Homo sapiens: one gene and its partners. The protein of the gene in region 3 interacts with the protein of the main gene of each other region in a pairwise test. Each region holds a gene or a part of one and is shown on either strand. Other genes may lie near its edges.

Region 1 (7,030 bases), on a different chromosome or scaffold from region 3:
ACACAGCTCCCAAAACTTACCTTAAATATGAAGTTTGAGCAGGCTGTGCTGTCACTGAGGAATTCACATTTGGAGGCAGAGATCTCAGTGGACCAATTTGATCGGGTCCTAGGCTATAGCTTTGGGCAACAGTTACTTGGTGAATGCTCTGACCCATATAGTTTCCACCATGTGATTGAACTGGATATGTCTATTAATCAGAAAGAAAAAGTTGATTCACTCATCTCCCAAACATGTGCCTAATAATATATTTAAAATGTTAAAAGACTTAAAGGAAAGAAACTATACTTCTTTGGGAAGCAATCTGATTCTACCAATCTATCCATCTTAGAACTAAAAGTGGAGAGCTGTCAAATCACAGTGCCAAATCTATGGAAATTTGATTTGTTTGGCTGTTCTTTTATTTTTACAGAGAGCTGGGAGAAAGACAGGTGGTGTACTTTTAAGTAGTGGATTGCAATCTATCCAGGTTGCCTATTACTCAGTAAAGATGTCTTGCTGTAGAGCCACAGAAAACTATACACTCCCTTGAAGGGAAGCCCACCATCACTTAAAGTCACTATAAGAATGATAACCTTCTTTACCCTCATCCCTGGATGACTCATCCAACTCCTTCCTAAGAAAGAAACTTGAGAGAAAAAGCTGAAAAAGAAATGGTATAAGGGTGCCAGGGCTTCCCTGGCAATGTCTACCTTATTCTCTACCTTTAAGACAAACAGGACAAAAGTAAAGAAGAGTTATGGGCAAAAGACATGTATCCTCAGGAAACAGCAAAAATGGTTTAGGTCTCTTTGGACATTTATATGTGCCCTACTTATTTTCAGGACAACAGCTCCTTAAGGACAGGGTCTACCACCTGTCTACTAAATATAGCATCAAAACAATGCATACATTTAATATCATATCATACCATAATGATCATCAATCCAGTTTTAAATTAAGCTATTTTTAAAGTAAATACCATTCATCTGAAAATTTAGAATGCTAGAAATGCCAAATAAGCTATATTAAGTACAATCACATTACCTCCTTAGTAGACATGTAACAATCTACTGACAATAGGCTGAGACTGTGAGAATCAGCGTCTTCTGCAGTTTAGGGTTCCTGAGTAGCCTACACAATATAACTAATGTGTTACCCCAACTGCTTCTAGTAGAGATATATTTTTGTCAAATTAGAATAGAAACTTTTGAATATTTCAAATGCTCTTGAGTGAACAGTGTAGGTACAGATTACGTGAGGAATCAAACAGAAAGTTAACTTTTTAGAGACATGAGTTGTGCTTGGCAAAACGCAGTAAGTAGAATGCAACTAAACACCAAAACCTGACACAGAATGGCAAATAACCCTTTACAGACACACAAAAAAGCAAACATAAAGTTTTATCATACAATGATGCAGACACTGCTGTTTTGTTCCACTTTCACAGCAGCAGCGAACAACTCTGAAAACAGAAGCAAACTGAATAAATCCCAAAGGTCTTTTGCAGCCAGAAAAATCTTTCCTACCCTCCTAATTTTCAAAAAGATCAAGGCATGGCATATTTGATAAATGTATCTTGTCTGACGTGACAGTTACCATAGTGACTATTCTTTTTTTACTTAACAATTATGTTGTGTCAAGTCATCTAAATTATGCACCCACATTCTACCCTTTCTCCTTGGTGTCTCCTTCACATGCACCTTTACATACCAGTTTTCATAAATTAACATGAATTTTGCTCATCCAAGCTCATTCTGAATTCAATTGGCTAATTGGCTGAAATTTCAAAAAACGCTTCCGAATGGGGATACTGACAAATGTAAGTATTCGCTTCACATGGCAAGCACACAAAAAAGGTGAAAAGTACTGGAAAAAGATGGCTTATGGATGTTCATGGATGGCTTACGGAGTCTGTACCTCCTAGACATGTATCATATCTTTGCTATGCACAGATTTTTAACAATGTAAGTCATGCAGCTAAGTAAAGGAAGTATAAAGCATACTCTAGAAGTTCATTGTGCCTGTTAATAATCATGTAAGTCAAATAAATCTTTATGGAAATTTGTAAAGAAATGTTAAATCTTGTTGAGCAGCAGGAAAGCGTTAGTACCTCACCTGGGGAACTTCTGATATGTCAGGTATTGTCCTAAATCAAAAGATTTATACTCCATATTTACAAAAAGGATTTATGTTTACATAAAAGATTTATGCTTTATACTTACAAAAGCATATGAAGAACCAGAACTACCCTCACATATTTAATGGTCTTTTCATCCATGTTAAAACTGAACTAAAATGTATTTGTGAAATATCAGTATCTGTCTAATTTGCTCTGGTGAATGTTAATTGTTTAGCCAATATTTACTGAAACAATCAAAGATAAATTTTATAATTTTATTCACAGACAAAAGAAATCTTAATACTATGCTATAAAACATTTTCTTTTACTTTTAAAAGTTGTTTATAATTTAGAAAATGTTCTCAAAAAACATGCTCACCTGCATTGGAACCCCAGATGATGCAGGTGGGTAATGTGCTGGAGGGTGGAGCTTTGAATAGACTGAGTACACTGGTGCTTCATTCACCAATTTGTTATATAGTTCCAGAGCTTCCAGGACTTTAACATTCAATTCAGACAATTCTGAATGCTTCCTGATGTAGAAGAAAAGTATTATAATACTCTTCTAGTTTTTAGCATGTATTTAGTAATATAAATTATTTTTTTAATTTAGCACAATTTCTATTAATATATTAAAAGGCTTTTTTATATTTAATGAAAGAATATTCACAAAGGGAAACTAAGAGGAAGAACTGCTTAATCCTTGTAATAGCTAGGCTGATATTGAGGCAGGAGAATAGGGTCTGGAGGCAGGGAATCTAAGGCTGATTTTCAAGCTGACTTCTTATAACTAAATTGAAAGGAAAACCAACCCTAACTTTCCACACCTAAGTAACAAAAGGACCAGAGGCTACTTCCTTTGCAAACCCCCCACGTTTTCTGTGCAGCAGATGGGAAATTGGGTGTCCGAAAAAAATCAGACTGATTACAGGTCCAGTCTCCATTTGCAACTTTGTAACTTCAGCCTCTGAATGGTTGCTGTCCACAACCAATCAGACTGACTGTGGGCGGAGTCTTCATTTGCAAAGAAATATAACTTTGTAACTTCACCCTAGCCTCTGATTGGTTGCTTTTTGCAACCAATCAGATGTTTGCACAGCAGTGTTACCTTTGTAACTTCATTTCAGCCTCTGGTTGGCTGCTTTCTGCAACCAATCAGACTGATTGTGAGCTTCCACTTCATTTACATGAGGTGAGCACGAAAAGGCCAATGGGAAACTTCTAGGGGGTACTTGGACCCAAGAAGATTCTGTATCCTGGCCCTTGAGCTGCTGCTCAGGCCCACTCCCACACTGTGGGGTGTACTTTCATTTTCAATAAAACCCTGCTTTTGTTCTTTTGTTGCTTCCATCTTTCTTTGCTTTGCTGGGCATTTTGTCCAATTCTTTGTTCAAAATGCTAAGAACATGGACAACTTGCAGTCACAATCCTCTACTGGTGACAATATGACTTTATAATATTAGGGAAAAGTCCTTCCACACCTCATAAAATGCAATCAATTCATAATTTCGGTGCTGAGAGAATTTACTTTCACACATTCTAGGTTTTTTGTTGAGAATTCAATTATTAAAAAGAAAATTCTCAATTTGGGTAAGAATCTGGGCCTTAATTAAAAATCTCAATAAAAGAAAGTACCCAGGCAAGGCTCAGAACCTCTATGAAGTACAATATGATGGAAATTTAAAAACACTTGTTAAAAAAAAACCACACACACACATTTTCATTTGTTTATATCCATGAAAGTGTCAACTGAAAAAAAAAAAACCTACTTAAATAATTATCCTTGAAAATCCAAGTAAAAACAATGTGTAAGTAAGACTAATCTCTACAGCTCATTTGTTGGTTGGTTGATTTTGAGAAAGTAAACCAATGCTTTATTATGTAATAACAACAAACCCAAATAAAAGCATCTTCAAATTTGCCCAAGAAGCTTCAGAGCAAACTCTTTCTACTTGATAGTTCCCCTGGGAGTAATAAAGAACTCTCTTTGCACTGTCAAATTTACAAAAGCTAAGCAACCACTTTTCATCTGGCCTGAAACATCCACAAGCCTTTTTACTGAATGTGGTTCTTTCTACATAAACACAGAGAGGCAACAAGCAGAGGCACACAGACAGACACAGGACTACCAAGTAAATAGCCTGGACTGAGTCCTATCAAGATTTGTCACTTTTCCTCTACTAGAGTCTGTTATGTCTGAACTACAACAACGAAAAGTCTTCTCTCTCTGGTAAGAATGACTGCATTAAGCAGGTCAAACTCTATTATCAAAAATATCAGGCCGGGCGCGGTGGCTTATGCCTGTAATCCCAGCACTTTGGGAGGCCGAGGCAGGCAGATCACGAGGTCAGGAGATCGAGACCATCCTGGCTAACACGGTGAAACCCCGTCTCTACTAAAAATACAAAACATTAGCCAGGTGTGGTGGCGGGCACCTGTAGTCCCAGCTACACGGGAGGCTGAGGCTGAGGGAAGAGAATGGTGTGAACCCAGGAGGCGGAGGTTACAGTGAGCCGAGATTGCACCACTGCACTCCAGCCTGGGCAACAGAGCGAGACTCTGTCTCAAATTAAAAAAAAAAAAAATCAGTTACAAGTCACCCAGAAAGCTACAGAAATTAGTGCCATGCTAACAAATGCATAACTAAAATGTAACCGTAGGAATTTGATCCACAAAACCCAGCATGCTGATGAAACACCAGGAAAATGCAGTAGAAAGACATGATCACTGTGTTTGAAATCCCCTTAAAGATTTGAGACACAATCCCAGAGTAATAAGGCAAAAGAGCAACTTGATCAGGTGGTAGAAAATTACCTTTGGAGGACAGGAGGAAATAAGATTAGAATAGTCTGGAACATAGTTAAGTCCAGACTATGAATCTCTCTTCAACAAATCTACCTAAACTTTTATGGAGTCAATTTACATGTTTACTCAATATAATTTCTTAGGCTGATAAAATGCTACAAAATTTCATTCTGTACAATGACAAAAATGAAATGTACAATTTAACTTTCTAACAGTAGAGATGTTTTTCTTAGTAGGAATAACAAACATGATCCATTCAAGGGAAAAAAGGATATTTTATTCATCTTTGAATACTTGACAAGGGTAAATAATAGTCAATAAGAATTTGTTGAAGAACAGGAAACATTTCCCAGAACAGGAGCTGCATCTGCAGCTGTGGCCATAGAACAAGAAAAAATGCCAGTTGGCCTATTCAAAAACTGAAACTGGTAAGAAAAATGGTTAATGGTTGAGTTCTCACTCAAAAAATTAACTAATATCAGAATGGTCACTTTGATTTTTTTTTCTTTTGAGAGCAGATCTCACTGTGTCACCCAGACTGGAGTACAGTGGTGCAACCGTGGCTCACTGCAGCCTCCTTGACCTCCCAGGCTCAAGTGATCTTCCCACCTCAGCTTCTTGAGGAGCTGGGACTACAGGCGCACACCACCAAGCCCAGCTAATCATTAAAAAATTTTTTTGTAGAGATGGGGTCTCACTGTATTACCCAAGTTGGTCTCAAATTCCTGGGCTCAGATGATTCTCCCACTTCAGCCTCCTGAAATGCTGGGATTATAGGTGTGAGCCCCCACACTGGCCTCAATCTGACTTCTAATTCTTCTAGATCTTTTCCTTTAACAAAATTCTTTTTATGAACCAAAAATAAGATTAAATTGTCATAGTTTCTGCCTTTTTTCATTATATAATATCTGCTCATATCAAGGGATAATTATCAAGGACAATGATTTCCATTGTAGAATGTGTGGACATACACTCAGCCCTCCATGTCCATGGGTTCTGCATCCGTGCACTCAACCAACTTCAAATTGAAAATACAAAAAATTAAAAAAAATTGTGTCTGAACTAAACATACAGCCACATCTATCATAATACTTTTTAATCTTTTCCAGTTTGATTATTCACTGAACATTAACATGCTGCATTGAAACAAAGTAGATGTGTAACGAGATATTTAATGCTTTCTCTAAAATATGGCAAAACTACTGTTAATTGCCACACAGATTTTTCATTTCTTTAGAAAACACAACAAATTTATTTTTAAAATGTCCCCTGGAACAAAGACGACAATCTCTGGTGACTAGGAAAAGTCCTGCTGCTACTGCACTTCTCTGGCAGAGGCAGAAAAGAAGTAGTTTATATTCTCCTTCTTATTTTGGTCCTATCTAATCTTTTCTTCTTGTGCTGCTTATATATTAATTCAATAAATACCACTAGAAAGGGATGATGATGGAATACTAAGCCCTATCCCTTGTTTTCCTTTCACTACAGGTTCTCCCTATGACTTCAGATAGAGAGCTGAGAAATAAGGGAGCAGAACCAAGTTAAAAGCTCAAAACCCTGAAAGTCTACCCCCTTCAGTGTTGCTCCTATTTTATTTTTATTTATTTATTTATTTTTTGAGACCGTGTCTTGCTCTTTTGCCCAGGCTGGAGTGCAGTGGCGAGATCTCGGCTCACTGCAAGCTCCGCCTCCTGGGTTAACGCCATTCTCCTGCCTCAGCCTCCCGAGTAGCTGGGACTACAGGCCACCACCACCACGCCCGGCTAATTTTTTGTATTTTTAGTAGAGACGGGGTTTCACCATGTTAGCCAGGATGGTCTCGATCTCCTGACCTCATGATCCACCCGCCTCGGCCTCCCAAAGTGCTGGGATTACAGGCTTGAGCCACTGCGCCTGGCCGCTCCTATTTTTAAAGGACAATAAGGGACAGGCACAGTGGCTCATGCCTATAATCCCAGCACTTTGGGAAGCTGAGGCAGGAAGATCACTTGAGGCCAAGAGTTTGAGACCAGCCTGGGCAGCACAGCAAGACCCTGTCTTTAAAAAAAAAAAAAGCTGGGCATAAGGCTGGGTGCAGTGGCTCACACCTGTAATCCCAACACTTTGGGAGGCTGAGGTGAGCGG
Region 2 (7,030 bases), on a different chromosome or scaffold from region 3:
CCCTCCCTCCCCCCACCCTCCCCCAAATTCTAAAGACTTTTTTCCCCAGGTTCTCAGCCTGGGGTATTAAGCTGCTAATAACACGCCTACATACTCAGGTGGTTTTGTTCTTGGTCTGTTGCAATGGTTCTCAGGAGACATTTCATTTGTGTCTGGGACATGGGAATGTCCTGAACTAATCTTGCTTAAGAAAAAACAACCAGAACACTCCCCTAGAGATGTAGCCTGCTCAACAGCTCTGAGTTCCTACCCTGGACCACATCTGTTTATGCTCTTCAAATGGAATCCAGCCTTCAGATGAACCACTGCAATAAACCCTACTCTCTGCTTGCCTCTAGACTGGGATCCCCAGGGACAGGACACTTAGGGAAGAGCAGAGAGGACATGGCCTGGTCAGGTAGGAGGAAGGGGATAGAGCTGGAAGGGCAGGGGCTAAGAGGGGGACAGTTGGGGAGAGGCAGGAGATTAGAAAAAGCAGCTTTTACAAAAACCAAAAATAAAAATCAAAACCATTAAAGATGCATAAAGTGACCCTTGCACTTCCGTTGTCTCTTCTTGCAAATAGAGGTGGTGCTGCTAGGGAACTGCTCCAGCACCGGTGTAAGACTTGAGTAGTTGCATACAATGTGTGACTCCAGATCTGCAGAGGGAAAGGGGAAAGAAACAGTGTCAGTGATATTCAGGAGGCTTCTCCCCTCAACTCGGGAGCCCGCTGTGCCTTCCTAGTGAAGCTGCCTGCCTCCCGCCTGTGGAAGTTGTTGTGCTCTGGTGCCAAGAGCCCTGGAGGAGATGGGGGAGGCCAGATGATGTGGGGGGCCAGAGGATTTCAAAGTGACATCCCTGGAGCCCTATGGTTCACTGTCACTGCCTCAGGAGCTGCTGAGGGGACCAAGGAAGCCAGAGGTCTGGGTCAGCCCAAAGCCTCCAAATAGCTCCAACCAAAGCTCTTAACATATGATCTGGGCAAGAGTTCATTTGAAGAATGGGGCCCATAGTTAAAAGAAGTCCGAAGACCATAAGGTAAATGGCACAGAATTTAGTACTAGAGAACTGAAGTTTAAGCCCTAGCTTAATTTTTACTGGCTAAGTGATATTTAACTACATATTTATCTGTAAAATAGAGCTAATGATCCTTATTTCACAGAGCAACTATAAGGATTATGAGATAACATAAGCAAAGGGATAGCTATTATTATTTCTGTTATTATTTAGATTTCAACAAGCAGTCAACAGAAGTGATAGCTATTATTAAGAGTGATATTATGGACCTTGGAGCAGGAAAGCAACTGGTAACTTGACAGCTGTTACCTGCCCTAGCTGACACCTGTGCTCCAGACCCAAACCAGGGACTTTGAGGCAGTTCCTGTATGTATCCCCCTCCCACTTCTCTCACCCTGGCCACACTCACTTGGATGGGCTGCAGGCTTTACCAGTGTGGGGGCACGTAGCTGTACGCAGGGGTTCCTTGGGCCCTATATGTTGGCATGGAGACAGGGTGTGCCCCAATCGCCGTGTGCTGGGGTGTAGTCAGCAGGGTACCTGAGCATCCAGAGAGAGAAGAGTAACCTGACGAGGCTGCACCAGACACAGGAATGAAGAGGATGAAGCTACAGTCTTTCACATGGCTGCTCCCTCTGCCCAAATCCCCCATCTCCCTCGCCTTCCTGATGACCTGTTTTCTGCCCTTCTCCACCTCACCAGGCTTCACCTCCTTAGGGGAATTTTTTCTGATGCTTGAGGACAGAATCAATGACTATTCTAAGTCCTCCTTTTCCTTTTTTCTTTGAGACGGAGTCTCGCTCTGTCGCCCAGGCTGGAGTGCAATGGCGCGATCTCAGCTCACTGCAGCCTCTGCCTCCTGAGTTCAAGCGATTCTCCCGCGTCAGCCTCCTGGGCAGCTGGGATTACAGGTGCCCATCACCACACTCGGCTGATTTTTTATTTTTACTAGAGATGGGGTTTCACCATGTTGGCCAGGCTGGTCTCGAACTCCTGACCTCAAGTGATCCGCCCACCTCGGCCTCCCAAAATGCTGGGATTACAGGCATGAGGCACCACGCCCGGCCTTCCTTTTACTTTTCTTTGTATGCTTCTCTTATTGCACAATCATACTGAGTAGTAATTGTGATGTCTGTGGCTGTGTTTCCCACACTAACCTGGGTGTTCCTTAAGGACAGTGTTCTGATCTGATCTATTGATATTGGGTTCCCAGGACCTGAACAAGGCTGGCACTGAGTAGATATCCAACAGTTTGCCAACTTGATCTGAGGAGTAAGAGGCCTCAACCATACCCTTACGTTAGGGACAGAATAAAATCCAAATGCTCACTCTACCCCTTGTACTTTCTTACCTCAGATGGTATCCTAGCTGGTTCTTTAAAAGTTGGGTCTCTAGGCTAGGCATAATGGCTTATATCTGTTACCCCAGTATTTGGGAGTCTGAGGTGGGTGGATCCCTTGAGCCCAAGAGTTCAAGACCAGCCTGTGCAACATGGTGAAACCCTGCCTCCACAAAAAAACACAAAAATTAGCTGGGTGTAGTGGCGCATGCCTGTGGTCCCAGCTACTTGGGAGGCTGAGGTGGGAAGATCACTTGAGCCCAAGCAGATCAAGACTGCAGTAGGCCAAGATCGTGCCACTGCACTCCAGCCTGGGTGACAAAGCAAGACCCTGTCTCAAAAAAAAAAAAAAAAAACCTAACAGTCCTTGGGGACTTCTGCTTTTGTCATCCCTCATAATTATTATAATTATTGCACAGGTCCTTAAGCTCCTGCCTAATAAAGAACATTGCCCCTGTGTCTTCTTTTTTGGCGCCCCTGCTGTTACTGGAGTGCTAGCATCATCTCTCTCCCCTAAAGTACACTGACAGCCTCCTCACTGACCTACTTGCTTCCAGATCACCCCTTCTAATCCTGTCTCCACTCTGCAGCCAGAGAATGTTTAAACCTAACCACATCCCTGCCCTGCTTGACCCCCATTGTGTGCAACAGAGGTACCACAAGGTATTCAGGACTTTCCACCATCTTATCCTTGCTAGCGATCCAGCCACCTTCCAACTCCAAGCCCCTATTTCCGAAGGGCCTTGGCTCCATTCCTCCATTCTGTGAACATGCCATGTTCATGTTCTTTCTGCACCACCCTTCCCTCTTTCACTTCTCTAGTTAGCCTGTGTTCACCCTTTAAGGCCTAGCTCGATACGTCCTTCTTGGTGAAATCTTCCTCATCCCCATAGACAGATTTAGAGGCTCCTTCCTCTGGGTTCCCAAGCCCCCTGGCACAGGATCTCTTGTGCTGTGCTGCAGCCAATTCTATGACTGTGTTCTCTGCTCCGTTTTGAGTTCCTAGAGGAAAGGGATGGACACTGATGCAGATGCTGCCCTCACCTGCTGACATTGCCATGGTGGTGCCTGCCACCATGCCCATGGCCACACCGTTGGTCCTCGGGGCGGCAACAGGTGCTGGGTAGATAGCAGAGGGAATGCTGTTGGGCTGGACGACCGTGGTATGGTGGATGACATGAGGCTGGGCAGCATACACCGGCTGTGTGTAGTAGGCTCCCTGGGGGAAAGAGGCTGAGGTCACATAGGCATTTGGAGAGGTAGGTGGGATATGGAGAGAGCAGCACTGGCTGAAGGACACAAGGTCCGGACCCCAGCTGGGGCTCTGCTTGTCTTACTATGTGACTGTGGTCAGTGCAGTGCTGGGCTCAGCTTCTGGTCTGAAAAATAAGGCTCTAATCCTGTCCTGCCTTGCTCATAAGGCTGCTATGATGATCTAATGGGATAAGAGCTCTACTCCCTTAACCTTGGTTTTAGCATTTTAAAATGTTTTATCTTACTGCAATGAACTTTTATAAGCTGCCTAAAATTTAAAGTTAGGAATAACAATCAATCAGTTACCAAGCATGTGAACAGGGCTGGTAAACTCCAGAACACATACACAAAAGGATAATTAGTAGTAGTATCATAATGGTGTAAGTGCATGTTGTAAAAAAAAAAAGTACATGTTGAAAAAAAATGGCGGCTGGACACAGTGGCTCACGTCTGTAGTTCCAGCACTTTGGAGGCCAAGGCAGGCAGATCACTTGAGGTCAGGAGTTCGAGACCAGCCCGACCAGCATGGTGAAACCCCATCTCTACTAAAAATACAAAACAATGAGCCAGGCATGGTGGCACATGCCTGTGGTCCCAGCTACCTGGGAGGCTGAGGCAGGAGAATGGCTTGAACCCGGGAGGCGGAGGTTGCAGTGAGCTGAGATCACGCCACTGCACTCCAGCCTGGGTGACAGAGCAAGACTCCGTCTCAAGAAAAAAGAAAAAAAAAAAAAGGCATACATGGATAGCATTTTCCAGGATGTCTCTTAACTAGCTATTTCCCTTTAGGTAAAAAGGTAAGGATGAAGAAGACAGTGGTCCAAGGTGACTCCCAATGCCTGAATCACATGGCTGCTTCCTGCTGCCACAATCCACTGGCCCACTGACTTGTAGGGGAAGTAAACAGGAGCCCCTGAGATCATCTTAATTCAGAAATCTTCAAATGTTTCTACTAAATGAGATTAAAAAAAATAAAACAAGAGGCTTGAGATCAATTTAAGTTTTGTCTTCTACTCTAAAATATAGCTGTTTTTTAAACTAAAAAAGTATTCTCCTCACCACTTATGTTTCCTATAGAGTCACTCCAGAAGAATGTGTCATGGGTGTGCTAGAGCCCCATATGGTCCCCTCTCTCATACCAATCCTGGAATGCATACATCTTCTAGCTGAAGGAGCCCAGAAAGGCCCATCAGGCACAGAAAGAGAGGGTAACTTGTCCAAGGTCACAGAGGATACTGGTGGCAGGGCCTGTGTACTTTCCTCCTCCCCACTCAGCTCACAGACTGAGGAAGGGTAGATGTGGGGGTTAGGGAGAAAAGACTAAGACGTTGGGGTCTCACCTTGACCAACCAATAGCTCGTGGTGTAACCTTGGACAAGTCATTCCCCTCTTTGGGTCTCAGTTTCCTCACTTGTTTAACAAAGGAGTTGAGCTAGAAAATCTCTGAGGGCCTTTGTCCTCTGACATTCTGGGCTCTGTTAATCTAAATGACTTCATGCCTACCCCCTCTAGGGGCTGAGGTGGAGTGAGGGAGTAAGCAGACTGCAGGGATATTGCTTCAGTGATACAACAAGGACGGCTAGCCAGAGCCACAAACCATCCTCTCCTTCCCTCACTTCCTCACCCTACCCCACCACACTGCACCCAGGCTGAAGGCTCCTCTACCTGCAGAAGAGGTGGCTTTGACATGTACCTACCTGGGCATACAGATTCTGCTGGGGGTAGGCACTTCTGATTGGATACATGGCCGTCTGATAGGGGTTGGGTGATGGGGAGTAGGGGGGTGGAGCAGTGTTACTCTGGGTCGGTGGGACCTTGTATGGTGTCCCCGCAGTATATCCTGTACCAAGGCAATAAGAGAGACTTCCAGTTAGTTGGCAGAAAAGCATTGCTAGAAGGCAGCAGGTCCCAGTCACGACTCCCCAGACAAAGATGGGCTGAATCCAGGCTGGAAACAGAGATGAGAACAAACAGAGAACAGGGCTCCACCCAGAAAGCCCTGGCCCCAGAGGCAGCTCCCTCAGTCCTGGTGCACAGGGCTGCATGGATGATTCTGGGCATCTTTTCTTTCTCTGGGTCTCAGGGCTCTCATCTATAAAATAAGAGGCTAGAACCACATGGTCCCTTTTAGCTCTGACAGCCTGGGATTTGGAGCTGTCTGTGTGAAATGGGCAGGTGCACAGAGATGGAAACCCTCAACTCACTTGCTCTTTATTGCTACTCTACTTGCTTTTCTGTCTTCTCACACAGAATCCAGGGTATCTTTTTGCTGCTGTTTCTGTCTTTCTCTCTTTTGCTCTATTTCTTTTTCTCCTTATCTCTCTCTCTCTCACTCTCTTCTTGGACTTCCCTCCATCATGTTCCCTCCCCTCCCCACCAAGTTTGAAGGTGAAAACCCCATACAAAACACCATTCGGAGACCCTCATCTTCTGGGATGCTGACCATACAAAACACCATTCGGAGACCCTCATCTTCTGGGATGCTGACCATACAAAACACCATTCAGAGATCGTCATCTTCTAGGATGCTGAAAAACTTTGCTCTGCAGAGTTGGCTCCTCCTTCTCTCCTGGGCTCTAGGGGAAGGCCACCTCTGCCTGAAAATACCTGAAGTCAGGGATCACAAAGATTCACATCAACCTGGAACCTGGGCCATGTCTGTCCCTCAGCAGGATGGACAAAAGCTGGAGCTAAGAATGGGGCTGAGAAGTCAGGCCCCAAGAAGCTCACAATTGCCCATGTAAATAAACTGTGCTGCCTTTTAATCCTCCGGAAAAGAGTGACAGATCCTTTGTTCACAGAAAAAAACTTGAAACATGAGTCATTCAGGAACAACACTGTCTCCTTTTAGAATCACAAAATGGAATCGTTCTACGGAACCCAAGTGATCATCAAGGGACTCCAATCCTTGGACTTTACACAAGGGGATCCTGGGCTCAGAAAAGGCAAGTCTTTTTAATAACTTCTCCTAAAGACTCTAAACTCTTCTAAGTTGAAGGGACAGTGCCTGAGGACCTAGGCTTTGAAGCCCTGCTGGGGAGGTGCTGAGGTGGCTTCTTTCCTGTGGTTCCATCTTGGGTAAGTCTAGCAGACCTCACTGAACCTCTCTGGGCTTCAGCTCTTTCACCTATAAGATGCTCACCAAGGACCCTTTCAGCTCCGAGGTGCTGTTTCTATCATATAATAAGGGACTAGGGGCAGAGTGGAGGGAGTGCTTTATTGGAAGAGAAGACATCTAGTCTTCAGTCCTGGCTTTCCCCCTAATTTTTCATGACAATTGTCAAGTCTTTGGGCCTTAGTTTCTTATTTTGTAAAATCAGGTGGCTAAGAATGAAGATCTCTTCCTAAACAAAAATTCCATGGTTCTAAAGATCCTGGGTCTCTTCTACCTTAACCCCAAGTAAAAGCAAACTACCACATGGTCACAAATCTTTCTCA
Region 3 (6,338 bases):
GGATTCATGTGAGGATTAAATAATTTAAATAAAAAATGCTTAGAATAATTCCTGGGAAAAAAAAAAGTGCTCAGTTAGATTTGGGTGTCGCTCTGCTAGGTCAGCCATCCTCCTTCTCCTCCATCAGTGTGTCCTGAGTGTGTAGAAAATGGTTGTCCATTTATTTCATTTTTCTTGAGTTGGGGTCTTGCACTGTCTGCCCAGGCTGGAGTGCAGTGGTGCAATCAGATCTCACTGCAGCCCCAAACTCCTGGGCCCAAGCAATCCTCCTGCCTCAGCCTCCCAAGTAGCTGGGACTAGAGGCATGCACCACTGTATCGGCTAATTTCTTTTATTTCTATTTTTTGTAGAGACAGGATTTCACTGTTGCCCAGGCTGGTCTCAAATTCCTGGCCCCAAGCAATCCTCCCACCTCAGGCTCCCAAGTCACTTCACCCATTTCCTCCCAGTCCTGGCACAGCCCTGCATACGTAACTGATACATAGAACTTAGATAACAAAAAGTGACTGAAAACTACTTTATTTGAAGACATTTTCTTCTATAGTTCTAAACACAAAAGGAATGCTGTTATAGTGGGTATTTCATAGGCATTCTTGTATTCAAATGAATCACATAATGTTTACACTTTTAAGCTAGACTTGAAATTGAAGACTTAATACAACCTTTTAACAAAGAAAGTATCAGTCATATCAAAACATAACTATTCATTCTACAGATTATCACTTTCCCTAAAATGACTACTAGATATGAAAACATTGCAGGGACAGCTCAAGTGCCCCATTCTTAAGGGTTTTTTTTAATAGGAAAAATGACAACGTAAATCACATTTTCCTTTTCTTTACTAGTAATGAACTATGGCAATCCATTTGAGAAAGCACCAGCCAACCGTACAAGTCATTTCAGCACCCTTTGCTCTTCAAAACTGACCATCTTTTATATTTAATGCTTCCTGTATGAATAAAAATGGTTATGTCAAGTACAGACGTCAGCAACGTGTCAGTTGGTGTGAATTTATGATGTGTTCCTAAGTCAACAGAGAAAATAAAAAAAATCTCTCATGTGAATAAAATCTAAGGATGAAAAACTATCCTTTGATAATTATCACAAGGCAAAATCAACCACCTTTTCATCAGTACTAGTGTGGAATGGAAATTTCTTTATTAATACTTTTTATGGGAATGTTTTAAAGGCATAGGTATAAATGCACATGCAATCAGCTTGCCCCTCTTAGATACTAACTTCCCCAGCTTCACTCCTCCTTTTCACTGGAACAAGCTGCTGAATCCCTAACTCCAAAGTCTGCAGTGCTTGGTGAGCATTTTTAAATAAAGATTATATGTGATTTTCACTTTTTCACAAAAATGAAGTACAGAGAAGACTGAAAAGCAGTGAGAAAAAAATCATAGAGCAAAAAACTAAAACACAAGATGTGATGTTCAAATTTAAAAGAAAAACAAAACTGGTTCGTGATGATTGTTAGTAAATCACAAAAACAAAGGACGGACAGGGCCAAGACCGAAGGGACCACCAGACCACCGAGCCCCAATGTGCCAGACAAAAGTGGGCATCTTTGAGAAGGACGCCCTGGTGAAGACAATTACAGTGAACCTCTTTATAAGGCCGTAAGCTCTTCAAGGTCATGGGCCGTGACTTATTTATGTCTGTATTCTGTTCTTAGCATTGTCTTGCACATGACAGACACTCAGTATTTCTGGTAACCACAGAACTGGAGCTCAATCAGCTCACTGCTTTCAAAGTCATTTTGGTTGGTGTCTACCCACTTAATTCTTTCACTCCTCTGTCTAAGGCAGGGATGGCAAATAGCCTTCATTTCACTCTGATGGACTGGGAATAGATGTCTGGAAGCACCAATCTGACATGGATTCTAAGACCAAATCCTGGCACAGAGGACAGGAATGCTGCACTCATTCATAATGCCTCCTTAAAAGAGCGGTGGCACAGGTGTTATATATTCCCCATTCCTGGTCTAGGAAAAAGGCATCCAACACCTACTTATATTCCTTTTACATTGCTATGCTGCCTCTTGAGTGATCTGCATTAAGCCACTGTTCGTTAAATGCTGGTTGATCAGGAAGACCAAGGCCTTTCCTCTCAATTTACGTCTTTGGCCAAACAGGTAGGGTCAGAACTTCACCTGGAAATCTGAAAACACATCATCCACAATGCTCAATAGGCAACAGTCCATTGAAAGAGAACAGGTATTTACTTGATTACTCCCTTTGTAGAGAAAGAATTTTGCCCATCTCAATGGTGTGTAGCTTTCATTGATATCTAAGGCATTTGGAATTACTTAGGATCTTGGTGTTAAAAAAAAAAAAATGGCAGGGTTAAATTCTCTTTGGTTCTCATTCTAATCTTAAGACTTCTGTTTGTTTCTTCCTGGTACCCATAACCTTCTCAGCACTTCGTCGTTGTGACTTAACCAATACTGTTGAAATAATCAACTCTTTCACACATTCATCAGAAAACCTTTTAAAGGATGCTAAGGGGAGAGGCCTCTGAAAATAAGTGGGTTGAAAGGAAAGCCAGAGAGAATAACAGGAAGAACCAACCTTCTAACAACCCACACACAGGACTCTCTACCATTCAGACTGCTATCTATAAAATAGGGTGCTTCTGGTCGGGGGGCTGCCACCCCAGGTCCTCCAAGCAACCCTTTTCCCCATAGTGGGAGGTCAGCATCCCTCAGAAGCATCTCAGGAAAAAATGATAAAGCATTTAGAGAATTGGGAAGAAAATAGAGGGATACTATCAAAGAGTAAAGGACAGTCCTGGGGGATGAAGGGGGATTTTCTTTTTTCTTTTTTTTTTTTTGGAGACAGAGTCTTGCACTGTCGCCCAGGCTGGAGTGCAATGGCACAATCTCGGCTCACTGCAACCTCCGCCTGAAGGGAGATTTTCAAAGCAACATTGCCTCTATCATAGGTAGTCTTCAATGTAATACTGGCACCAACAAGAGAACCGAGCTAAATTAAAACTACCCTCAAAATGTCATCACAGCTGATGTGCACAGCAGGAAGGACGATGTCACAAAATGCACAGATCTGTTCCTATTGCACATTCCACCTTTCCCACGTACTGCTGGCAGCCCAGAATAACCAAAATCTTTTTAGATGTCTGTCTTAAAGAGAGCTATAATATGCAAACATACACACACACACACACACACACCCCCACACACACACACAACCTCAAACCTGGTTTATAAAAGAGCTTTGTGGATCAGAGTACACCCTCACTTGGTCCAAGAATCTAATTGTCAACATTAGGCAAATAGACCCAATGAATGTAACCAGGAAGAGAATTAACTGGTTGGCTGGAATATTGTATTTGATATGATATGCTTATTTGCAAACTAATCTCCAACTGTTTGTCCAGTACTAATTCAACTGACTCATCTTCTAAATGTATAGGACAAAGCCTTTAAAAAGTTAAGCTCTTCAGCAACGAAAAGTTAACACCATCTAAAATAAATAGATTTTAAAATATATGTAATGAAATTACAGGTCACTGGAAATTCAATTCTACAATGAATATAAATTAACATTAAAATCTATTAAGTACTATTCCTGGGAAGATTTTGGTTCAGAGGTTTTATTTTTTTAAGGGCTTAATATTTGGGAATAAATGGGCATAGCTTAGAAACCCTTACAAAGTTGTAAGTAGACTAGAGGTAAGATTATTTGGTGACAAGATACAAAGATCTGTTTCTATGTCCAAAATAATGGCTTACCTCATTTTAGTTAATAGAAGTATTCCCAAAAAGTTGTGCAAATAGGCTTTTTATAACTGGACGCTTATTTTAAGTATACTAGAGGCCATGGTTGTAAAGAAAACCTGTAGTCACTCCTCTAATAAACTGAAGAACTCTAAGTGATTAGCCCCTGTCCTACATCTGCACAGTGGACGGCATACTCCAGGCACTCATAAGTGTTTGTTGAATGCATGAATTCGCTCTGACAGTTTTTTTTTTCCCCTACAGGACTTTCTTAAAGTGAGGCACATGCTAACTGAAATGGTTCTGCCCGCTGTTACTGCAGAAAGATGGAATCCAGCTCACAGTTTAACTGATGCCATTACAAAATATCAGATAATTTCAGAGTGTTTTCAATCAAAATAAAATTTCCATAAGTATGAGTGTATGTATTTTTGAGGAATGTTGATCTATGATTGGCAGAAGCTTTTATTGTTAACTCACTCACTGAAAACAACTGCTTGAGCTGAATTCTATTTCAATTAACAACCAAGGCAAGTAAAGCACTTTACCTAACTTCAGAAATACCACCAGAAACCATTCCACTTCTGTAACAGCTTCTTCCCCTCACTCCAGCACAAATATTTAAATGCTGTCCTTACCTTAGTCCACAAAAGCAAAACATGAATTACAAAGCTAAGATTAAATTAGAAAGCTGCCGACTTAAATATGACAAAGTTTTTTTAGCCTTAAAATAAGAACTAAGTCAAATACATTCAACAAAAGTAACTCTTAAAGGCAAATTTTTTTCTTATTTGGTGTTTTCTTCCCTTCCCATTTAAATTTAAGACTCAATTTTTAATAATATTCATATGTCCATTTTTCTAAATAATATATCCTCTTTAAAACAATACAGAATGCCTAGCAGTGCAACCTATGTGTCCACATAAATATGCAACCTGCCACATAAATAAAATAAGAGGTTTTATCAGTCTATTTATCCAGCATTTGTAACTGCAAAAAAGGCTGGAAAAATAGCTAAGAATATTTTTATGCAAGTTTTGGGGAGGACTGAACACTGGTAAGGATTCACTGTAGGGCTCCATCATTATAAGTTTCCTAAAAAGTAGTGTGCAAACAAAATATCTGAACACAGAACCCTAAACATACTAGATGTATGTGTGGGTATGGGTGATGGAGAAGAGAGAATGAATATGTTAATATGAATGCTTGTCAAGGACACTGATAAGAAAAAGAAAACCTCTCACTTAAGGTGCTAATGATATGTCAAGGGACCTAAATACAACAGATTTTAAAATCATCTTTACCATTTGTCCCAATTATTGACTTTGGCCCTTTACCACACAGACACAATGAATCTACATTTTGATGATCCGTCATTGGCCCAAGAGTATCATGTTTGGAGATGGATTTGCTCCCATAATTTAAAAATCAATAATTTAAAAAATAACAAAGTTGGTCTCTTTTTTCCACCAGTTTTCAAGTAATTAGTTCAAGTAAGCTTATTTACAGCTGCTACTGTATATATGTGACCTACTTTAACCCTTCTTTACCCTTTAGGAATTGGTCTCCCTTGGAATGGGACACCACATTTTAAAAAAAACTTGAACCAGGTTTTTTTCATCTACCAATTCAATTCAGTCATGTTTCTGCTTTATTGGGCAGATAAAGAGAAGAAACCAGCAAGTTATGTCCAAAAGCTGGAAAACGCCGAAATGCTTCCCAACTATCTGAAAAGATGTTGTACTTGAGGAACACTCGGTGTTCCAAGCTGGTCGACAGGGTGACGTCTCTGCTCATGATGTAGATGCCGTCGTTATGGAGCGCACAAGTCAAGTTAAGACCCGATTTGGACGTGTTCTCCTTGAGGTAGAGCCACTGGCGGGTGACGGTGTTGTAGGACTGCACGGTGAGCATGTCCTCGCTCTGGCTGCTCCTGCGGTTGGGCCCCAGCTCGTGGAGACACCCCCCCACGATGTAGATGGTCTCTTCCACAGACACCATCTGCTGCTTGCGAATGTGGACGTCACATGTTTCAAAGAGCGTCCACATGTCGGAAGAGGGGCAGTACTGCAAAATGTTCATGTTCCGGTCTGAAAGAAAGAAAGACAAGTGATGACACCGCCTCCACTAACACCACTAGGCAAGTCTGTACAGAAATGTCTACCTCTGCCTGCATAATTTGGTAACAAAGAGAAAAAACTCTTTCAGAAAAAGCACAAGTTAGAAAAACAGTTTTCAAAGTGGCTGGGAAGAGATATATTTAGATCCATCCGCACTCACCTCCCACTCCCAAACGTCTCTTCCGTGGGAGACTCAGACTGGATAAAACCAGGAAAAAGCGCAGCTCTGACTTTCACACAGCCCCTCCTCCCTGGTATCCCCACACCTTTGAACCACCAGGTCAGTGTAAAAAAAGTAAGTGCCTCAGAACCCTCATCAATAGCTACAAAATTACCGACTACTTAATACAGAAGCCAGGCTGGGCAGCAAGTAGATTATTCTTGATAGCTGATCCTAAGAAACATGACAAGTAGCAACACAGGATCTCCAGAGGCTGTCTAGTGAAAAGGACACAACGTTACAAGTCAGGAGAAAGGCA
Region 4 (7,030 bases), on a different chromosome or scaffold from region 3:
AATGGGACCACATCCAGATAGGCTGGTATAACTTACCATGATCAGTATTTGCTTAGCATTCAGCTGCATGTTCCTTACATGTGATCTTTTTGCCTCATTCATTGTTTCAGGCCACACAAAGTCTATGAATCCTTTTCATCCTACATATTCATCACAGAATCCTAAGGATTTTATGAGCACAAACTTATCTAAACCTAGCACATAACATAGTTGCTATCTTTAGCCTAAGAAATAAAAGTTTAGAAACCATCGAGTATCTAAGAACACCAAAGTGAAGATGATCATTTGTAGCCTTCACCAAAGAAAATTCAGAACCAAGAGAAAATTCCACTATTTTGCCACCCTCAGAGGGATAGCATAGATGTTCTGACTTTACAGTAATAAAAAAACTGCAGTCCTTTAGCATAACAGAGCTCCTGCTCGCTGAGGATTGTTGGAATAGCTCTCATGGCAGGTCGGTGACAACAGTCCCACTGTGAATTCCTATACTTGCCTATAAATTCTCAGCTCACATTATGTTTCCCTTTATGCAGTTATTTCCCATGGAAGAATAATGTTACAGAATGAAAAGCTAACATAACTCAGGACTCAATGGGCGAAGAGGAGGTCTCGAATTTTGTGAAAACGGCTAGGCTGTTTGCTTTTCTCTATTCTCTCTTAGGCTGATTTTGTTAGTTCATGTTAGGAAAGTGAGAGAGACGTTACCTCTGATCGACCAATTCTATCTATGTTGGAAATGTCGTACACATCTGCGACCGCGGCAGTGTCCACACCACCTGTGCCACGCTTCTGGAGTCTTAGGTTTTCCAGGATCTTAGAAAAGCGTGGGTCCTAGGACAAAGGGATAATACTTAAATGTGCTAAGAGGCAAAATTGATTCATAATCATTGGTGCGTTTACTGACAAAAGACATATAGTGAGAGATAACAGTTTAACTTTTTATATATATAATAAATATATATATTTATAATAGATATATATATTGAATATATAGATTAACTAAATAAAGCGTTCTGGGATACATGTGCAGAACGTGCAGGTTTGTTAAATAGGTATACATGTGCCATGGTGGTTTGCTGCACCCATCAATCCATCATCAACCTTAGGTATTTCTCCTAATGCTATCCCTCCCCAAACCCCCACCCCCCAACTGGCCCCAGTGTGTGATGTTTCCCTCCCTGTGTCCATGTGTTCTCATTGTTCAACTCCCACTTATGAGTGAGAACATACAGTGTTTGGTTTTCTGTTCTTGTGTTAGTTTGCTGAGAATGATGGTTTCCAGCTTCATCCATGTCCCTGCAAAGGACATGAACTCATCCTTTTTTATGGCTGCATAGTATTCCATGGTGTATGTGTGCCACATTTTCTTTATCCAGTCTATCATTGATGGGCATTTGGGTTGGTTCCAAGTCTTTGCTGTTGTGAACAGTGACTCAATAAACACACGTGTGCATTTGTCTTTATAGAATGATTTATAATCCTTTGGGTATATACCCAGTAATGGGATGGCTGGGTCAAATGGTATTTCTGGTTCTAGATCCTTGAGGAATTGCCACACTGTCTTCCATAATGGTTGAACTAATTTACACTCCCACCAACAGTGTGAAAGCATTCCTATTTCTCCACATCTTCTCCAGCAACTGTTTCCTGACTTTTTAATGATCACCATTCTAACTGGCCGTGAGATGGTATCTCGGTGTGGTTTTAATTTGCATTTATCTAATGACCAGTGATGATGAGCTTTTATTTCATGTTTTTTGGCCACATAAATGTCTTCTTTTGAGAAGTGTCTGTTCATATCCTTTGCCCACTTTTTGATGGGGTTGTTTTTTTCTTGTAAATTTGTTTAAGTTCCTTTTAGATTCTGGATATTAGCCCTTTGTCAGATGGATAGATTGCAAAAATTTTCTCCCATTCCGTAGGTTGCCTGTTCACTCTGATAATTTATTTTGCTGTGCAGAAGCTCTTTAATTAGATCCCATTTGTCAATTCTGGCTTTTGTTGCCATTGCTCTTGGTGTTTTAGTCATGAAGTCTTTGCCCATGCCTATGTCCTGAATGGTATTGCCTAGGTTTTCTTCTAGGGTTTTTATGGTTTTTAGGTCTTATGTTTAAGTCTTTAATCCATCTTGAGTTACTTTTTGTATAAAGTGTAAGGAAGGGGTCCAGTTTCAGTTTTCTGCATATGGCTAGCCAGTTTTCCCAACACCATTTATTAAACAGGGAATCCTTTCCCCATTTCTAGTTTTTGCCAGGTTTTTCAAAGATCAGATGGTTGTAGATGTGTGATGTTATTTCTGGGGCCTCTGTATGTTCCATTGGTCTATATATTTGTTTTGGTACAAGTACCATGCTGTTTTAGTTACTGTAGCCTTGTAGTATAGTTTGAAGTCAGGTAGCATGATGCCTCCAGCTTTGTTCTTTTTGCTTAGGATTGACTTGGCTATATGCGCTCCTTTTTGGTTCCATATGAAATTTAAAGTAGTTTTTTCTAATTCTGTGAAGTCAATGGTAGCTTGATGGGGATAGCATTGAATCTATAAATTACTTTGGGCAGTATGGCCATTTTCACTATAATTGATTCTTCCTATCCATGAGCATGGAACGTTTTTCCATTTGTTTGTCTCCTCTTTTATTTCTGAGTAGTGGTTTGTAGTTCTCCTTGAAGAGGTCCTTCACATCCCTCGTAAGTTGTATTCCTAGGTATTGTATTCTCTTTGAAGCAATTGTGAATGGGAGTTCATTCATGATTTGGCTCTGTTTGTCTATTGGTGTATAGGAATGCTTGTGATTTTTGCACATTGATTTTGTATCCTGAGACTTTGATGAAGTTGCTTATCAACTTAAGATTTTGGGCTGAGATGATGGGGTTTTCTAAATATACAATCATGTCATCTGCAAACACAGACAACTTAACTTCCTCTCTTCCTGCGTGAATACCCTTTCTTTCTTTCTCTTGCCTGATTGCCCTGGCCAGAACTTCCAACACTATGTTGAATAGGAGTGGTGGGAGAGGGCATCCCTGTCTTGTGCAGTTTTCAAAGGGAATGCTTCCAGCTTTTGCCTGTTGGCTGTGGGTTTGTCATAAATAGCTCTTATAATTTTGAGATATGTTCCATCAATACCTAGTTTATTGAGAACTTTTAGCATGAAGGGCTGCTGAATTTTGTCAAAGGCCTTTTCTGCATCTATTGAGATAATCATGTGGTTTTTGTCATTGGTTCTGTTCATGGGATGGTTTACGTTTATTGATTTGTGTACGTTGAACCAGCCTTGCATCTCAGAGATGAAGCTGAGTTGATTTTGGTGGATAAGCTTTTTGATGTGCTGCTGGATTCGGTTTGCCAGTATTTTATTGAGGATTTTCACATCAGTGTTCATCAGAGATATTGCCGTGAAATTTTTCTTTTTTTATTGTGTCTCTGCCAGGTTTTGGTATCAGGATGATGCTGGCCTCATACAATGAGTTAGGGAGGAGTCCCTCTTTTTCTATTGTTTGGAATAGTTTCAGAAGGACTGGTACCAGCTCCTCTTTGTACCTCTGGTAGAATTCAGCTGTGCATCTGTCTGGTCCTAGACTTTTTTTGGTTGGTAGGCTATTAATTACTGCCTTAATTTCAGAACTTGTTTTTGGTCTATTCAGAGATTTGACTTCTTCCTGGTTTAGTCTTGGGAGGGTGTATGTGTCCAGGAATTTATCCATTTCTTCTAGATTTTCTAGTATATTTGCACAGAGGTGTTTATAGTATTCTCTGATGGTAGTTTGTATTTCTGTACGATCAGTGGTGATAGCCCCTTTATCACTTTTTATTGTGTCTGTTTGATTCTTCTCTCTTTTTAGCCTGACTAGTGGTCTATTTTGTTAATCTTTTCAAAAAACCCGCTCCTGGATTCACTGATTTTTTGAAGGTTTTTTTGTGTCTTTGTGTCTCTATCTCCTTCAGTTCTGCTCTGATCTTAGTTATTTCTTGTCTTCTGCTAGCTTTTGAATTTGTTTGCTTTCACTTCTCTAGCTCTTTTAATTGTGATGTTAGGGTGTCGATTTTAGATCTTTCCTGCTTTCTCCTGTGGGCATTTGCTGCTATAAATTTCCCTCTAAACACTGCTTTAGCTGTGTCCCAGAGATTCTGGTACATTGTGTCTTTGTTCTCATTGGTTTCAAAGAACTTATTTATTTCTGCCTTTATTTCGTTATTTACCCAGTAGTCATTCAGGAGCAGGTTGTTCAATTTCCATGTATTCGTGCGGTTTTGAGTGAGTTTCTTAATCTTGAGTTCTAATTTGATTGCACTGTGGTCTGAGAGACTGTTATGATATCCGTTCTTTTGCATTTGCTGAGGAGTGTTTTACTTCCAATTGTGGGGTCGATTTTACAATAAGTGCGATGTGATGCTGAGAAGAATGTACATATTCTGTTGATTTTGGGTGGATAGTTCTATAGATGTGTATGAGGTCCACTTGGTCCAGAGCCGAGTTCAAGTCCTGCATATCCTTGTTAATTTTGTCTGGTTGATCTAATATTGACAATGGGGTGTTAAAGTCTCTCACTGTTATTGTGTGGGAGTCTAAGTCTCATTGTAGGTCTCTAAGAAGAGTGCTCTAAGACAGCGTTCCTCCAAGTGTAGTCCCTTGACCAACAACCCCGGCATCACCTGGAAACTTGTTAGAAATGTGAATTCTGCAGGTGGGGCCTAGCAACTTGTGTTTTACCAAGTCCTTCAGGTGATCTCTTGCATGCTCAAGTTTGAGAACTGCTTGAACTAGGAGAGATGGAGAAAGGAGATAGAAAGAACCAGAGAGAGCAGAGCCTACCTATCCTGATTTGTTACATGAGGAAAAATGTAAAGGCCTTATTCTTGAAGCTACCATCTTTTTCTTACAGCCCCTGAACCTTTTATTCTAACTAATACAAATGTCTTTGGAGGCAAACTTAATTTTTTTCTTATTTTTATATTGTAGATAGAGAAAGTAAGGGTTAAGGAATGGGCAGTGATGTTTTCTTCCTCCACAAAGCAGTCGCATCTGAGCTGATCCTGGCCCATCAGGGCCACTGGGCACATAACAGTACCTTGCTGAGCTTTGGGATCCTAACGTGGACACCAGCTCGTAGTCCTGTTCCAAGGTTCGAAGGACAGGTCAAAATGTATCCTAGGCGCTCATTCCACATGAACTCCCAGCCTCGTTCTTGGATTAACCGTTCTACCTACAAGTAGAACCACAGTGAACAAATGACAGCATTTTCCAACATCCATTCATTCAGCACATCCCTAACACCAGAGAGAGAGATGTGTACCCTCCTCTGGCATGAATGAAATTAAGGTAAATTTATAGTACTCCTTTAAGAGAAAATAATACCTCTCCTACCAGACTATTAAAATGGCCCAATTAAGTTAAATGAACCATGTAAAGCAGTGGTCCCCAACCATTTTTGCATCAGGGACCGGTGTCTTGAAAGATAATGAATGTTTTAAGACAATTCTTCCACAGATCGTAGGGAGGGAATATTTTGGGATGAAACTGTTGTTCCACCTCAGATCATCAGGCATTAGTTTCTCATAAGGAGCACGCAACCTAGATCCCTCACATGCGCAGTTCACAATAGGGTTTGTGCTTCTATGAGAATCTCATGCCTCTGCTGATCTGACAGGAGGCAGAACTCAGGTAGTAATGCTGGCTTACCCACCACTCACCTCCTGCTGTGCGGCCCAGTTCCTAACAGGCCACAGACCTGTACCAGGTCCGTGGCCCCGGGGTTGAGGACCCCTGATGTAAAGCAGTCAACATAGTACCTGGCCTGTACTAAGCACTTGATGAATGTTAGTTGGTGGCATTTTTCATGCCAAGAGAGTAGGAGAATACAGGAATTATCAGCAGGTGAGTCTATGGTCAGGCTACATTCTCTGTCATCTGTATGCTTAGAATAGCTCAGAGCGATATTAAATAAATCAAAAAACAAGTAATGATCCACAGACTTCCCCAAACCACAGTGGAATGGGGAAGTAAGCGTAATAGCTTTCTAATAACAAGAGAAAGTCACTTATTTTCTGAAGCACTACCTTGGAAGTTGCACTCCAAAAAATGCCTTGAGGCTGGGCGTGGTGGCTCATCCAAAAAATGCCTTGAGGCTGGGCGTGGTGGCTCATGCCTGTAATCCCAGCACTTTGAGAGGCTGAGGCCAGCAGATCACCTGTGGTCAGGAGTTCGAGGCTAGTCTGGCCAACATGGTGAAACACCCCTCTCTACTAAAAATACAAAAATTAGCCAGGTGTGGTGGTGGCACCTGTAATCCCAGCTACTCTAGAGGCTGAGGCGGGATAATCACTTGAACCTGGGAGGCGGCAGTTGCTTTGATTTCTAGAAAAAAATTAGCTCCATCTTGGAAGTTACCATAGTGTCTTCTTTCAAGAACAAACAATACGGTAATTTTATTTTAATAAATATCCAGAAATCTCAGATAACATCTTACTTCTTTTAGTCCACGACAGAATCGCTCAAATACTCGTTTCATATTGCCTCCTTTTTCCATTGAGATTACCCTGGTGTGATCCTCCTCATTTATCCAGATGAGAAATGTCTTATCATAATTATGCCTAATGAAGAGAGAAATATGGTACTGAGTGTTAATTGCATTTGTTTCAACACATGAAAATTCCCATTACCTCCCTAGCTTGATTGCTTCATTTCACCTTCCTCATTTCCTAGATGGCCCTAATCTCTTAACTGTGCCTGAACAAGTATGACAAAATAATGTTACTTTGACAGAAGGAAGATTAAGACCAACTCTCACCCTAAAAGATGTCATGTTTTTACCAAACAAGAATATAATTAATTCCCCCTAGGTCCTCTGACTAGGATGACAGTAATTCAACTATATAACATTTGGCTTCGACATTAACAAGAATGTTTTGTCTCCTAAAAGATTCAACCAAAATCTTGTGCTCTAAAAAGCGGGTGGGGGTTACCTTCCACCCAAGATGTTGAAGGTACACAACATTTCACACATTTGCTCCATGGATCCTGCCTGTCCATCC

What was found.
Region 1: the proteins of KLHL42 (region 3) and STAM2 interact in binary tests that used the Homo sapiens proteins (3 or more experiments, as listed by UniProt).
Region 2: the proteins of KLHL42 (region 3) and FAM168A interact in binary tests that used the Homo sapiens proteins (3 or more experiments, as listed by UniProt).
Region 4: the proteins of KLHL42 (region 3) and CKMT2 interact in binary tests that used the Homo sapiens proteins (3 or more experiments, as listed by UniProt).

Annotation. Positions count from the first base shown.
Region 1 is NC_000002.12:152,123,746-152,130,775, forward strand, and holds part of STAM2 (signal transducing adapter molecule 2), read right to left. Parts: intron 2,635-7,030; coding exon 2,481-2,634; intron 191-2,480; coding exon 21-190; intron 1-20.
Region 2 is NC_000011.10:73,406,105-73,413,134, forward strand, and holds part of FAM168A (protein FAM168A), read right to left. Parts: intron 5,433-7,030; coding exon 5,290-5,432; intron 3,558-5,289; coding exon 3,383-3,557; intron 1,540-3,382; coding exon 1,427-1,539; 3' UTR 1,409-1,426; intron 641-1,408; 3' UTR 1-640.
Region 3 is NC_000012.12:27,797,206-27,803,543, reverse strand, and holds the end of KLHL42 (kelch-like protein 42), read right to left. Parts: intron 6,298-6,338; coding exon of another isoform or gene 6,254-6,297; exon of another isoform or gene 5,830-6,253; coding exon 5,378-5,829; 3' UTR 504-5,377; downstream 1-503. UniProt on the Homo sapiens protein: Substrate-specific adapter of a BCR (BTB-CUL3-RBX1) E3 ubiquitin-protein ligase complex required for mitotic progression and cytokinesis. The BCR(KLHL42) E3 ubiquitin ligase complex mediates the ubiquitination and subsequent degradation of KATNA1.
Region 4 is NC_000005.10:81,257,292-81,264,321, reverse strand, and holds part of CKMT2 (creatine kinase S-type, mitochondrial precursor), read right to left. Parts: intron 6,590-7,030; coding exon 6,466-6,589; intron 5,203-6,465; coding exon 5,068-5,202; intron 832-5,067; coding exon 706-831; intron 1-705. UniProt on the Homo sapiens protein: Reversibly catalyzes the transfer of phosphate between ATP and various phosphogens (e.g. creatine phosphate).